Homo sapiens: one gene and its partner. The main gene of each other region encodes a partner of the protein of the gene in region 2 in a complex. Each region holds a gene or a part of one and is shown on either strand. Other genes may lie near its edges.

Region 1 (7,025 bases), on a different chromosome or scaffold from region 2:
AATAGGAACAAGTGACAGCTTGAGCTGTGGAATCTAATCTTGGAAATGTACTTAGGTGGCAAACTGTAGAGGACTCCAAAGGCAAAACTAAGTTTGACTGTATATTTGTTCAGTGGAGGAAGCATCTTATTTATTTATTTATTTGTTTATTTTTTTTTTTGAGGTGGAGTCTCACTCTTGTTGCCTAGGCTGTAGTGCAGTGGCATGACCTCGGCTCACTGCAACCTCTGCCTCCTAGGTTCAAGCGATTCTCCTGCCTCAGCCTCCTGAGTAGCTGGGACTACAGGCGCGTGCCACCATGCTCAGCTAATTTTTTTTTTGTATTTTTGTAGAGACAGCGTTTTGCCATGTTGGCCAAGATGGTCTCAAACTCCTGACCTCAGGTGGTCCCCCTGACTTCAGCCTCCCAAAGTGCTGTGATTACAGGCTTTAGTCACCGTGCCCGGCCTTTTTTTGAAAGAGGCAGTCATACATGGTCAATTTTGAAATTTTTTGGGAAGACAAATCAACACTAGTGGGAATGAAGGAAGAAGAACCGGAGTGGAGGAATAAATTAGGAAAGCCTAACCACCTAGAGGTGCAGTAATAAAGTGGCAGCGGAAGGTAGCAGATGGAGGTGAGGAGTTTTGTATTGACAGAAATAGTAACAGGGACCCTTGTGGGAAGAGTGGTAAAAAGACTTTTAATCATGGCAAGTCTGAGTGGAATCAAAGGATTATGAGACCTTAAAGGGTAAGAGACCAAGAGAGGTGGGATTTGGATTTGGAGGGATTTCTGAGATAGAACAAGGCTTGCTGGTTGATTGGCTATGGGCGGTTGTTCATTCTGAGGCCTCTAGGTTGGGAGCCTGGGAGATGGTGGTGCCATTATCCAAGTAAAGGAATACTGTTAGAGCAGATTTGTCAGGGGGAAATAGTTCTGGTTTGAACTTAAGTTTGTAATGCCTGTAGGCCATTCAGGCTATATCCAGAAACCATCTTAAAATTTGTAAGAGGGGAGCAGGAGCTGGAGATGAAAATTTGTGTAAATGGTAGTTAAAATCTTGAGTGGATGAGCACAGATTCTTATCTGGGTCATTGGTTAGGTGAAATTGCAATCATGGCCAGGCGCGGTGGCTCACGCCTATAATCCCAGCACTTTGGGAGGCCCAGGTGGGCGGATCACGAGGTTAGGAGATCGAGACCATCCTGGCTAACATGGTGAAACCCTATCTCTACTAAAAATACAAAAAAAAAAAGTAGCCGGCCGTGGCGGTGTGCGCCTGTAGTCTCAGCTGCTGGGGAGGCTGAGGCAGGAGAATGGTGTGAACCCGGGAGGCAGAGCTTGCAGTGAGCCAAGATCGCGCCACTGTACTCCAGCCTGGGTGACAGAGCAAGACTGGGTCTCAAAAAAAAAAAAAAAAGAAATTGTAATTATATGTTTTCTATATTTATCTTTTTGGTTAAAAAATACATAGCATTTGATAGATTTTCAAATGAGTCCATTATCCTGGAAACATTAAGAACCACTGAAGTAGAACAGAGGACCAACCAGGTAACTCTGGCAAAGAAGAGGAAACTGATGACTGGTCAGATGTATAAGGGAACAGTGTAGACGGGGAGGAGGGAGAGGAGGAGAGATTGAAACACTCTTAGTATGCTTGGTCATCTTAGACTAAGATAGCAAGTGTCTATTTTGGTTTAATTGAGTTTGAAATGCTGTTTCTGAATGCGACAAGAGAGCTCATGGGGTCATCTTCATAGAGATATTAATTGAAGCCTTAAGAGTGGATAAGACATCTGAGAACTAAGCCAAAGGAGTGCCTGCCTTTACTGTGTCAATAAAGGTCAAGTTATGGAAGAGGACAGAGGAAATGTGGCCAGAGAGACCAAAGAACTGGGAGTGCACGTTATCAAAGGAGCCAAGGGAGATGGTACTCATTAAGGGATTGGTATTGAGTACTATAGGAGGGAAACAGAATGCAGCTGACAAGCCATTATATTTGTTGACTTTCAGCTCTTTTTTTTTTTGAGACAGAGTCTTGTTCTGTCGCCCAGGCTGGAGTGCAGTTGCACAATCTCGGCTCACTGCAACCTCCGCCTCCTGGGTTCAAGTGATTCTCTTGCCTCAGCCTCCCGAGTAGCTAGGATTACAGGTGTGTGCCACCACACCCGGCTAATTTTTTTATTTTTAGTAGAGACGGGGTATTGCCATGTTGGCCAGGCTGGTCTCAAACTCCTGACCTCAGGTGATCCCCCTGCTTCAGCCTCCCAAAGTGCTAGGATTACAGTGTGAACCACTGTGCCTGGCCTCTTTTTTTTTTTTTTTAAAGCGGGGATGTTCAACTTGGGAAAGCTGAATGAATAAAAGAAAAAAGAGGGGGATGGTTTCAACTAAAATTTCATTGTGATCACATTCCTGATGGTACAATGTCCTCCTGTCTTGTTAAGGTTATTGTGATTATAGCAGACTAGTAGAACTACCACTTTTTCAGCACTCTTGTTTTGTATTTTACATACATTAATGCTAAGCCATATAACTGTACAGCAAAAGTGGTAACTTCTGTTTGTTTTTTACCCCACAAGTGAAGAAACTTGAGGCACACAGAGGTTAGTTAACTTGCCCAATGACACACAGCTAGGAAGTGATGAAGCAACCCCAGTTTTTCTGGTTCCTAAGTAGTGCTCCACCAAAGATCAGAGTTGAGAAAATAGATTATTTCAGTAACAAGAAATATCTGTTGTCTGCTTTTGCTTGTATCACTTTTTAGCCTTTAAAACCTTTCATGTAGAGTTATTTACTCAGAAAATGTTTATTGAACTCTTCATCCAAATAATGGGATGGAATTGGGGAATAATACAGAGAAGATACCAGTGTTACCCAGGAGTTTGTGAAGTGCTGAGAGGAAGAGAAGAGCTGAGTGACTTGGGGCTGTCTTTCTTTGGCTTCCCAGACTTCTGAGCTAGGTGTTGATGTGTGAGTAGGAGTTTGCCTTGAGAAATGCCTTCTAGGCAAAGCGAAGTGTGCATGTAAAGGCACAGACCGTGAACACAGTGCATCAGGTCAGGAAAACCACAAATTACTTGGGAAGGCTGGAGTGTAGGGTGCCTTAGTAAGAAGGTGGGAGTTGAGACAGCTGGGGGTAGGCAGGGCCAAATCCTGAAGGGCATTATTTGGTAAGGACTTTGGACTTGATCTTGTGGGTGACGGAGTCATTAAAGGATGGCCCTGTTTCTGTCTGCCAGTTCCACTCCCACTTTATCTCTTATGCTTTCTGCCCATTTTGCCTACTTACTTACTTTTTTTTTGAGACAGAGTTTTGCTTGGAGGCTCACTGCAACCTTGCCTCCTGGGTTCAAGCAATTCTGCCTCAGCCTCCTGAGTGGCTGGGATTACAGGTGTGTGCTACCATGCCTGGCTAATTTTTGTATTTTTAGTAGAGACAGGATTTCGCCATGTTGTCCAGGCTGGTCTCAAACTCCTGACCTCAGGTGATCCACCTGCCTCGGCCTCCCAAAGTGCTGGGATTACAGGCGTGAGCCATTGCACCTGGCCGCATTGTGCCTACTTTATCTCGTGGTACTCAGTGGGGGTGATTTTACCTCCCTGCTACAGAGGCATTTGGAAATGTATAGGGGGGCGGCTTTTTGTTGTGTTGTCACGTTGATTAGGGGGTGTTATTGGCCGTCAGTAGGCATGTCAAGGGCAGACATGCTAAATGGTCTGGATTGCACGGTACACTCCCTCCACTGGAGAATCATCCTGCCAAGATGCCCATAGTACAGCACCCCAGCCTGCCCCAAGAAACATCAGGCTCTATTTAAGTCCCGCTTTTCTCTAAAGCTCATCTCTATGAACTTTGCCCTATTGCTTCCTGTTAATGCACTCTCTTCATGGATCTCTGCTGGGTGTTTGTACCACCTGTTTGAAAGGCAGGAACAGCAATAACATATATCATATATAAAAACTCTAGACCTGGAGACAGAGATATTGAGATTCTTAATTTTGCTTGCTCATTGTTTACTTAACTTTTTTAATCAAGAAGTCTCCTCTACACTTTTGGAGCTCAAAGATGCAAGGACAGCAGCTTACATGAGTAACAGAAGAATCTAGTGTTTCTGAGCAGAGTTTAGAGTAAAAGGATAAGTCAAAACAAAATTAATTTTTATATTAATAGCATCCCTAATGATGTATTCCTGGTAGTTAGCTATAACCATTACACCATTCCCATAATCTGATTTGTGTAAATTCAAGTTGACTTTTCCCCAAAACTGTATGTAATTTATTCCTCACCTTGCTCACAATTTATATACCTATTAATTGAAAAACACCTCATTCCCCAACAAACATCTAGAGCTCCTTGCCTCCGGCCTACTCCACCCACCCTCTTGCCTAATCCTGAGATGCTATTTTGCTCCCCTTTAGATTTGCTTTTTTTCTTTCACTTCTTGAGGCTCCCACACTGAAAGGTGCCTAGGAGCTCATCCAGTAGCTGCGCTGTCTCTGCTCCCTCTAGGAAAGGCCACCTGCCTGAGCTTTGAAATGGCCCACACCGTACCAGAAGGAAGAAGAGAGATTCCAGGAGGATTCAGACGTTACCCAGGCTTTCTGGAAACTGAGCAGAACCACAGGAGGAGAAAGCTATAGGCAGCTGAACAAAATTTATGTGTTTCTATTTCCCCTGCTATAACATGAAAGGACTGGGCTCTGTCTGTGGTTTTCAAATCTCCTCCTCTCTTAGGGGCTTCAGGCCTCACCCCAAATAGGGAAACTTCACATACAGCATTCTCTCCCCTAATCCCTGTTTTTTCTATTCTTTGCTCTTCTCTTATCTACCTCCTTCCCCTCCCGTTTCCCTTCTTCCTCTGCCCTTAGTCTTTTTTCTTTTTCTTAATTTCCTTTTAGTCATTATCATCTTCAGTTCACATAGGTAGTAACTATTAGGGTTAGCAGGGCAAGATCCCATTTGGAAAAAGGATTTGATTGCTTTGAAAATGATGTTGGGCAACCCACAGGATAGATGGTCTCCAAGGTCCCTCCCAGATTCTCAGACTCAAGGCAGGCCCTGGGGTTTGAACCTATGGCCAGTAGGAGCTGGATAGCAGGTGTCTGCATGGATAATATGCCATGATCAACTGACTAATGTTAGTTGCAAGCCTGCCTTGCTGGTTTAAGCTTCATTCTCATTCTTGTCTTTTTTTTTTTTTTTTTTTTTGAGACAGAGTCTCACTCTGTTGCCCAGGCTGGAGTGCAGTGGCGCGATCTTGGCTCACTGCAACCTCTGCCCCCAGGTTCAAGCAGTTCTCCTGTCTCAGCCTCCTGAGTAGCTAGGATTACAGGTGCCTGCCACTGTACCTGGCTAAGTTTTTTTTTTTTTTTGTAGTTTTTAGTAGAGATGGGCTTTCACCCTGTTGCCCAGGCTGGTCTTGAACTCCTGACCTCGTGATCCATTCGCCTCAGCCTCCCAGAGTGCTGGGATTACAGGTGTGAGCCACCGCGCCTGACCGTCATCCTTGTCTTTGAGGTATTATATTTTGCACTTTACACATAAGGGAACTGGGTGTCAGGTAACTCGTTCAGGGTTCACAGCCAGTAAGTATATTGCAGAACTGAGATGTAAATTGAGATTTATGCAGACCCCAAATCCTGTGACCTTTTTTCTTTTAACTACTATAGGCTTTTCTCTGTTATACCGAGTTACCTAGAAACGTACTTCCTACAGCCTGGGTTCCTGAATGGATTAGCCCTAAAGTATAAAATGATTATGCCATTGCAGACAGACCTGAAGAAGAGGCTAGAAAGGATTAGAGTTAAAGTAACTTTGTTTTTTGTTTTTGTTTTTTCTTTATCTCCAAAGGATCTGTCATCTAGCAACTTAATTTTTATCAGGAAGCAGTATTGATTTCTTCCCATTCCTTCTAGTTACCTCTACCAGTTTCTTGATTTTCATTCATTTAATATTATTAAACACGTACCGGATTATGTGCTAGGCAGTAGGAACAAAGTAGTGAACAAAAGTTGTTCTTACTCTTTGGTGTTTACAGTCCAACAGGGCAGTAATAACATTTACTGAGTATGGTGAGGTGTGGAGTGCCACTGGATGATATAAGATATTCTGAGTAGTCATGAAGGGTTTCCGGGAGGAAGTGGTGTTTAAGCTGGGACCTGAAGGAAGACTTAGAGCTAGCTGGGTAAAAGGTAGGGTAGAGTGCTGGAATGTTTTAGGCACTACTTTGTAGAGACTGCATTATAGAAAATGAAAAGTTTATGATTAAGATCTGGGGGCCTTTGTCATATTACTGCAAGGATAGAAAGTGCAGTTAAAGCTTTAGGTATAGTTGGAACCAGGAACTGGAAAATAGACCAACGTAGCTACCTCCCTCCCTCTTTACAGTTACAAAAGCTTCTTGTACCCTACATCTCTCAGCAGCTGGATTTTCCCCCCTCTTTTCTCTTTTGTCACTTCCCCATGCACTCAGCAGAGGAGAGCTGACCCTAGCTCCCTGAAGGTATGTGTCTTCAGGTTTTTTGATGACCAGAGGCTGAGAACACTCTGAATCCAATTCCAAGTGGAACAGAATGTGTAAAAACACTGTTAGGGAGATCATTCTGCACAGAACAGCTCACTCCACCTGGCCTTTCCAGCCTGGGAGAGTGTCTGCCTCTGGTCTAGTCAGCTGAGGCCCAAGGTGGGGTCATTTATTAAATAAAGCTGCATATCTCGGAATGTCTAAAGGGCAAGGTGGGAATTGTCAAAAGGGGTCTCATTGATTTCTGACTTGTTAGGTTAAAGTTCTTGGTACTGTTTTCCCTGTCATTCTCCAGGGAGTGTGTATCACTCTCCGGTTTTTACAGATGAGGAAAATGAAACAAAAGTTGGGTAACTTGCCAGTCACAAGTAAGGGGTCAAAGGATTGTCATGAGTATTAAATAAAACAGTATACTTGAAGTCCTGAGCACTTGGTACCTAGTTAATGCTCTGTTATTCCTTTGAAGTAAACAGGGTTGACAAGATGTGAATCCCCCTTTGTCTCGGTCTCTATGTA
Region 2 (7,025 bases):
CTGCTGGAGGCAGGTTTTAATTGGCATGGGAGGAGTTTACATTTCTTACCAGCCTTACTGTAAGCCTGTTGCAGGCCACCTTTTGGTCCCTGTGGACATTTTGACGATCTCCCTTCTGCTGAGTCTACAGTGGTTTCCAACAGACAGTTTCCCACTTGTGGGTGTGCTGACCCTCGAGCCCTCCTTATCTAACCTTGACTTCCTCTCAGCTCAGACTCATCTTCCACGCAGCCCACGCCCGGCCCCTCTGTTTCCCACCTTGGCGCCCTCCCACAGTCTTCTCTCCACTCTGTTCTGCTTTCTCTATCGTGCCCTCTCTTTATTTCAAAACCCCCTAGGCCTCCCCTTCCTCTTGCGTGAGCCCCTAATGACCTCCCTGCACATGTCCCAGTGCTACCTGTGGGTGGGCTGGGAGGCCCCTGTGTCATGCCTTTTGCCTCTGTGCTCTGTTTTATTTAGGATATGCACTCCCAAATGGTCCCTTTCTTTAGTCTTGTCCCCTACGACACCCCCTCACTCTGGCCCAATCCATTTTTCACTCTATAGCCAAAGTGTTCTTTTAAAATGGCAAATCCAAGTGTCTTAGCCAGTCCTCCAAGTCCCCTCATCATCTGACCTTCACTGGCCTTCCAAACCCATCTCTCATCATTACCCCACACACAACCTCTGGGCCTAACCTGTAACCCTGCTCCCAGCAGTGTATCCATTTTCACATTTCTTCTCTGGGCCTTAGCATGTGCTCTTCCACTTGCCTGGAACGTGTTCCCTTCCCTCTCTTCACTTGGCTAATTCACCTTTCAGGTCTTAGCTTGGCTTAGATGGCCTTTCTCTTGGAAAACTTTCTCTGGTCAAAGTCTGGTTTAGGAGACTTGGTTCTATGGTCCCCATAATATCCCCATCACAGCTCTCATCACATTGCGTGGTATTTAATTTTTTTTTGAGACAGAGTTTTGCTCTTGTTGCCCAACCTGGAATGCCATGGTGCGATCTCAGCTCACCACAACCTCCACCTCCTGGGTTCAAGCAATTCTCCTGCCTCAGCCTCCCGAGTAACTGGGATTACAGGCATGCGCCACCATGTGTGGCTAATTTTGTATTTTTAGTAGAGACAGGGTTTCTCCATGTTGGTCAGGCTGGTCTTGAACTCCCGACCTCAGGTGATCCTCCCGCCTCAGCCTCCCAAAGTGCTGAGATTATAAGCATGAGCCACTGCACCCAGCCTAATCTGCCTTCTTTCCCACCAGCCTATAAAACTGTCTGGGAAGAAACCAAACTGCTTGGTTCATAGCTGTCTCCTTAGCAGCTAACACCGTGCCTGACAAAAATAGGTTTTCCTTTTTTGAGATGGAGTCTCGCTCTGTCACCCAGGCTGGAGTGCAGTGGTGTGATCTCGGCTCACTGCCTCCAGAGTTTGAGCAATTCTCCTGCCTCAGCCTCCCAAGTAGCTGGGATTACAAGTGTGTGCTACCACGCCTGGCTAATTTTTGTATTTTTTAGTAGAGACAGGTTTTCACCATGTTGGCCAGGCTGGTCTCAAACTCCTGACCTCAGGTGATCTGCCAGCCCTGGCGTCCCAAAGTGCTGGGATTATAGGTGTGAACCACCGTGCCCGGCCAATAATAGGATTTTCAATACATATTTGTTGAATAAGTAAATGAGTTCCCCAACAGCTGGAATCCTGTTTATGTCCTCCTGCAGCTGACTGGGATCTTCCTGATATTCCATCCCCTCTATGGATGGGGCCTGGGTGTCCAGCCCAGATGTCTGGGTTCTGCGTGAAGGAGGTAAAAAGAACAGAGCCCTTGCTGAATGGCCTTGCGAGTCATGTCTGAGTAAGGACTAGGCTTGCCTGATGCTTTTCTGCTCAGACCCTTCCCCAGGAGAGACCCAGGGGGCAGGGGAGGGGAGCACAGTCCACAGGCTGCAGTGAAGGGAGGGCCACGCACCTGCAGTGGACTACGATAGGCCCGGGGTGGGCGGCTGTCTCCGGGCTCTCCTCCACCTCTGCCACTAGGCGCAGCAGGGGCCCAGCTGATTCTGGTGTCTGATGGTCTGGCCAGGCCGAAAAGAGGATGTGCTTTACTGACCGGCGCTCTTCCTGGTACTGGATTGGAGACAAGGCATGAGAACCAAGGTCAGGGTGGAGGGCACTGTCTACCTTCTTCTCTGGTGCCTGAGGAGGGCAAGGGCTGGAATTACCCTGTGGGGGGGTCATCTACTCAAAGCAAGCTAGGTTGCAATTTTCGTGCTCATTGTTCTCCACCACTTCCCCCTTCAAAATCCCGGGAAGGAGCATTGTCCTGGGAGAGGGGAGAGACCCAAATTCAAGCCCTGGCTCTGCTTCCCATAAGCACATGACTTTGGGCAAGTCCCTTGATCTCATTTTCTTCACCTGGAAAATGGGAACAGTGATATCTTACTGGTTTACTTGCCAGGATATTTGGAGGAGAATGAGTTGATAGAGGAATGCTTTCAAAAATATAAAACACCATAAAATAATAGAAGGCATTTTAAAAGCCCTTGTGTACATGTTATTCCACATCTCTTTCTCTTTTTTTGTTTTATTTTGTTTGTTTTTTTTTGAGACAGACAGTCTCACTCCGTCACCCAGGCTGGAGTGCAGTAGCACAATCTTGGCTCACTGCAACCTCTGCCTCCTGGGTTCAAGTGATTCTCCTGTCTTAGCCTTCCAAACAGCTGTAATTTTTAGTACAGACAAGGTTTCACCATGTTGGCCAGGCTGGTCTGGAACTCCTGACCTCAAGTGATCCGCCCCCCTCAGCCTCCCAAAGTGTTGGGATTACAGGCATGAGCCGCCACACCTGGCCTTCCACATCTCCTTTAACCTCCTCTCCTTCCCTTGGCCCTGCTCCTGGATCCTGCCTGTCCCCGCCTGACCATTTACACAGATGGGTGAGTACTTCCCGGTAGTCCTATTTGGCTTATTGGCTCTGCCCTATTAGACTAGAGGCTGAGGACAGTGCTCAAGTTTCTCTTTCTGCTATAGATGTGGGTTTAAGATGGTTTAGAAGAGCAAACCCTTGGCTCCTAGTGAAGAGCCAGCCTGAGTCCCAGAGATGCTGTGGGCGGCCCAACTTCCCACTGGGCCTGGCTCCGGGGGGGTGGTACCTGGATGGTGAGCTGCCGCACAGTGTATTCTGGGCACTCTTTCATGTCCTGGATGCGGATCTGGAAGGGTCCATAGGTTTCCTCTTCTGTGGGCCAGTAGTGGACACATTTCTAGGAGGGAGGGAGCTGGGAGTCAGAAGAGGGTCAGCTGGAGCAGGTGACAGGGCAGCAGAGAGGGGCTGGTATCTCCTCCCCATCCTCCACCCCTACTGGATGGGAGGTCAGCAACAGGGAGCCTGGCTCTTCTGAGCTTGATACCTGCAAGCAGAGTGCTCACCCTATCCCGTATTTTGGCCATAGACAGCCTCCCAGGGCTATATCTCAGGGAACTTTCTGAGAGGTATGAGCTGGGGCTGGCTCCCAGGGAAACCTCTGGTTCTGAGCTGCCCTGTGTGTGGGGTGGGGGTGGGGTGGGCATAGCACTTTCTGGGTTCATCATGAACTGTGGCTCTGCCTCCTACCTCCTTGCCCTCTCGGAGCTGAGTGAGCATGACAATGAGGGACACTTCCTCTTGCCACACCATCTCCCAGAAGTCCGACACAGTGTTGGGCATGGGGCCCTGGGTGGCAATGTAGACCTTCTCCTTCCCGTCATAGCCCTGGAAGGTGGAAGCACAGGGGAAGGGGTGGGGAGCAGTGAGAGCAGAGCTCTGGGGAGATCCTAGATGCCTCAGGTGCTGGGGTCAGCCTGAAGCTGTGAACCACACGTGTAGACGTACACATGCACGAACACGCACACTCAGAAGCCACATGATGGAAAGGATACGGGTTCTGGAATGAGGATCAGATCCCTGTTCTGCTGTTTCCTGGCTGTACCACTATAAGCCAGTTACCTAGCCTCCGTAAGCCTCAGTGGTATCATCTGTAAATTGGGCATAATAATATCTATCTTGTAGGAATGTAGAGTGGATTAAATTCAGTAAGATATATTGAGAGTCTAGCCGATAGCAAGTGCTCTATAAATGTTTATTCCCTTCCTCCCCTGCTGCTTTCTTCTAGCACAAAATACCTAAACAGTGTTTAATATTTGTTCAGTGACAGTTTCACATTTACAGGTTACTACTTTTCTATGAAAGTAGTAGCAAAATGTAGCACACTCTCCCTAACCTGATTTTCTCACCTTCAGGATCCTCAGCTTCCTGCTTCTCAAGATGGTGAAATCCAGACTGCAGTTGATCCGGTATTGGCCGGCAAATGTAAGATCATGTTTCCCCATGGCTTCCCTAGCTAAGAGCTTTTCGCCTCCCTGCGCCCCTGACTGATGTCTTACCCACATTGAGTCACTAGAGAGCGCTGCTTTTACATCTCCTTAGGGCCCACAGCAGCGAGAAGCTGGCGTGGAACACCCACCTGGCCTGGAGCTTCCTATAGCTTGACGTCAATCAACCATCTTCATATAAGAGGGGCTATCTGAGGGGCAGTTAAGGTAAGTTGGCGGGGAGGTCCCATTAGTGCTGGCATCACCTATGCAGTTCTCGGGAGCTGTGAGCTCTTAAGCAGCTGGAGATTGGGTTCAACAATGCTAACTTCCTGCTAAGTTTAGAGGGTGGCATGGGAGGACTGATAGTGGAGGTTAGGGAGACTTGGTGGTCTCTCCAGATATTTTTCAACATCTGCTCCGTTTTTTAGGTTGGTGTTTTGGGGCATGTTCAGTACCAGCCCAGCTTGGTAGGGCTATGACAGCAGTGAGCTGGAGCAGGGAGGGTAGGAAATGCAGGCACCTGATCCACCAGCCATGGCTGGAAGATATTCTCAGACGTCTGAGAATTCCCCCATTCCCCGCCCACCACTGCAGCCAGGCCACTCACTCGGATGTAGTTGGCATTGATGTAATCTCCGTCCTCCTGGCTCTGTGCCCGGCCTAGACAGACACGGCTCTGGGGATCTAGGAAATAAAAATCAGCAGAGGTCAGAGGTCAGAAGGTGACCAACTAACACAGACTCAAGCAGGGTCAGAAAGAGGAGAGTTCCTGTGCTCATCACAGTCATAGCACCTTGTGTATAGCAGGTGGCCTTACACCCACTGAAGTTGTTGTTTTTGTTGTTGTTTTTAGAGACAGGGTCTCATTCTGTTGCCTAGGCTGGAGTGCAGTGGTGCGATCATAGCTCACTGTAACCTCTAACTCTTGGGCTCAAGTGATACTTTTGTCTCAGCCTTTGACATAGCTGGGACTATAGGCAAATGCCACCACACCTGGCTTGCTTATTTATTTATTTATTTACGTTTTTTGTAGAGATTGGGTTTCACTTTGTTGCCCAAGCTGGTCTTGAATTTCTGACTTCAAGCAATTCTCCCACCTCAACCTCCCAAAGTGCTGAGATTACATGTGTGAGCCACCATGTCTGGCCCCTATTGAAGTATTTTATACGCAGACAGTAGGAAGCTGTATAATGTTTTTGAGCAGGAGAGTGACATGATCAAAACAATAGTTTGGGAAGATTAACTGAGTGGTGCTGTATAGGATGGACTAGAGAAGAAAGGGAACGGAACAGCAGAGACCAAATGGGAAGATACAATATTAGATATAATATTCTAATAGATACAGTATTCTATCCTTGAGATCAGTACAGGTTTAGAACAAGATTATGCCACTAGGGATGGAAAAAGAGATGTAGAGGAAGAAGAATTTGTTTTCTAATGGTGAATATGGGATTCACATGAGCAACTTGCCAGATATCACATAGCTGTGAAGTGGGACTAGGACTCAGATTCCGCTCAGCCACGAGGCATTTGGCCTCTGCCTCTAAGGGGGAAGGATTTCTCTAAATGAAACCCAAACATGGATGAAGAAGCTGGCTTGTGAGGAAAGGAGAAGAGACTCTCGCTCTGCTCATGCCAGCCTGGTCATGGACAGAAGGTACCCTGGGGACCAGGGGAATCTCAGGCAAAGGAATTTTTCCCTTTTCTGGTGGCTGCAGGGCTGATTAGAATTAGGCCAAGAACAAGGGCTACTCCTCCCCCTGGCCTGGAATAGCGCTAATAGCACCTTGATCCGCCCATGCAGGCAGAGGACACTCCAGGAGGGTTAGCAGGAGACAGGGCCCGAGTGCTCACTGAGCTAAAGCCTCAAGCTGGGAGTAGCTTCCCTGTAGGGAGAGCAGGGGAGGGAGGGAGAGGCTCCGGGGCCTCATGCCTGCCTCCGAAAAATAGAAGGTGCTTGCTCCGGGTCTGCCAGTTTGCAGGGTCACCCCCTCCTAGCACAGTGTCCTCCCTCCCCGCCTCCACTGCTCTCTTGCTGGCCGTTGCCCTGTCTCCATCTGACTTTCTCAAAGCCATCTCTCTGGGAGCCCTCCTGGTGGTGCTTCCTTCACTGCAAGCCTTGGCTGGGCATTTCCCATGCAAGAGGAAGACAGGGAAAGGGGCTTGGTGCAAGTAGCTAAGTTGAATATCTTAGGTAAGATATTCAACTTCTCTGTGCCTTAGTTTCCTCACTTGTAAAATGGTCATCACAGTACCAACTTCATGGGATTGTTGTGAGAAATGAGTGAATATAAAGGATTGAGGCTGGACGCGGTGGCTTACGCCTGTAATCCCAGCACTTTGGGAGGCCGAGGTGGGCGGATCACCTGAGGTCGGGAGTTCGAGACCAGCCTGACCAACATGGAGAAACCCCACCTCTGCTAAAAATACAAAATTAGCCACGCATGGAGGCGCATGCCTGTAATCCCAGCTACTCGGGAGGCTGAGGCAGGAGAATCGCTTGAACCCGGGAGGCGGAGGTTGCAGTGAGCCCAGATTGCGCCATTGCACTCCAGCCTGGGTGACGAGAGTGAAAACTCCGTCTTAAAAAAAAAAAAAAGGATTGAGAACAGGGCCTGGCCCAGGGTACATATCTGCAAACATTATTATTGCTGCTGTTGTGATTCTTGCTCCTTCTTCCCCCTTTCTCTGCTGA

Evidence for each region. The genes of interacting proteins can lie anywhere in the genome.
Region 1: the proteins of PTPN7 (region 2) and MAPK1 are in contact, whole or in part, in a crystal structure (PDB 3D42), measured with the Homo sapiens proteins. Residues at the interface, in NP_001351807.1 of Homo sapiens: Arg124, Tyr125, Lys126, Ile128, Asp257, His258, Ser292, Ala293, Gly294, Ile295, Gly296, Arg297, Gln335; in NP_002736.3 of Homo sapiens: Thr185, Glu186, Tyr187, Val188.

Annotation. Positions count from the first base shown.
Region 1 is NC_000022.11:21,857,646-21,864,670, reverse strand, and holds part of MAPK1 (mitogen-activated protein kinase 1), read left to right. Parts: intron 1-7,025. UniProt on the Homo sapiens protein: Serine/threonine kinase which acts as an essential component of the MAP kinase signal transduction pathway. MAPK1/ERK2 and MAPK3/ERK1 are the 2 MAPKs which play an important role in the MAPK/ERK cascade.
Region 2 is NC_000001.11:202,150,596-202,157,620, forward strand, and holds part of PTPN7 (tyrosine-protein phosphatase non-receptor type 7), read right to left. Parts: intron 5,015-7,025; coding exon 4,938-5,014; intron 3,729-4,937; coding exon 3,591-3,728; intron 3,256-3,590; coding exon of another isoform or gene 3,241-3,255; coding exon 3,130-3,240; intron 2,105-3,129; coding exon 1,947-2,104; intron 1-1,946. UniProt on the Homo sapiens protein: Protein phosphatase that acts preferentially on tyrosine-phosphorylated MAPK1. Plays a role in the regulation of T and B-lymphocyte development and signal transduction.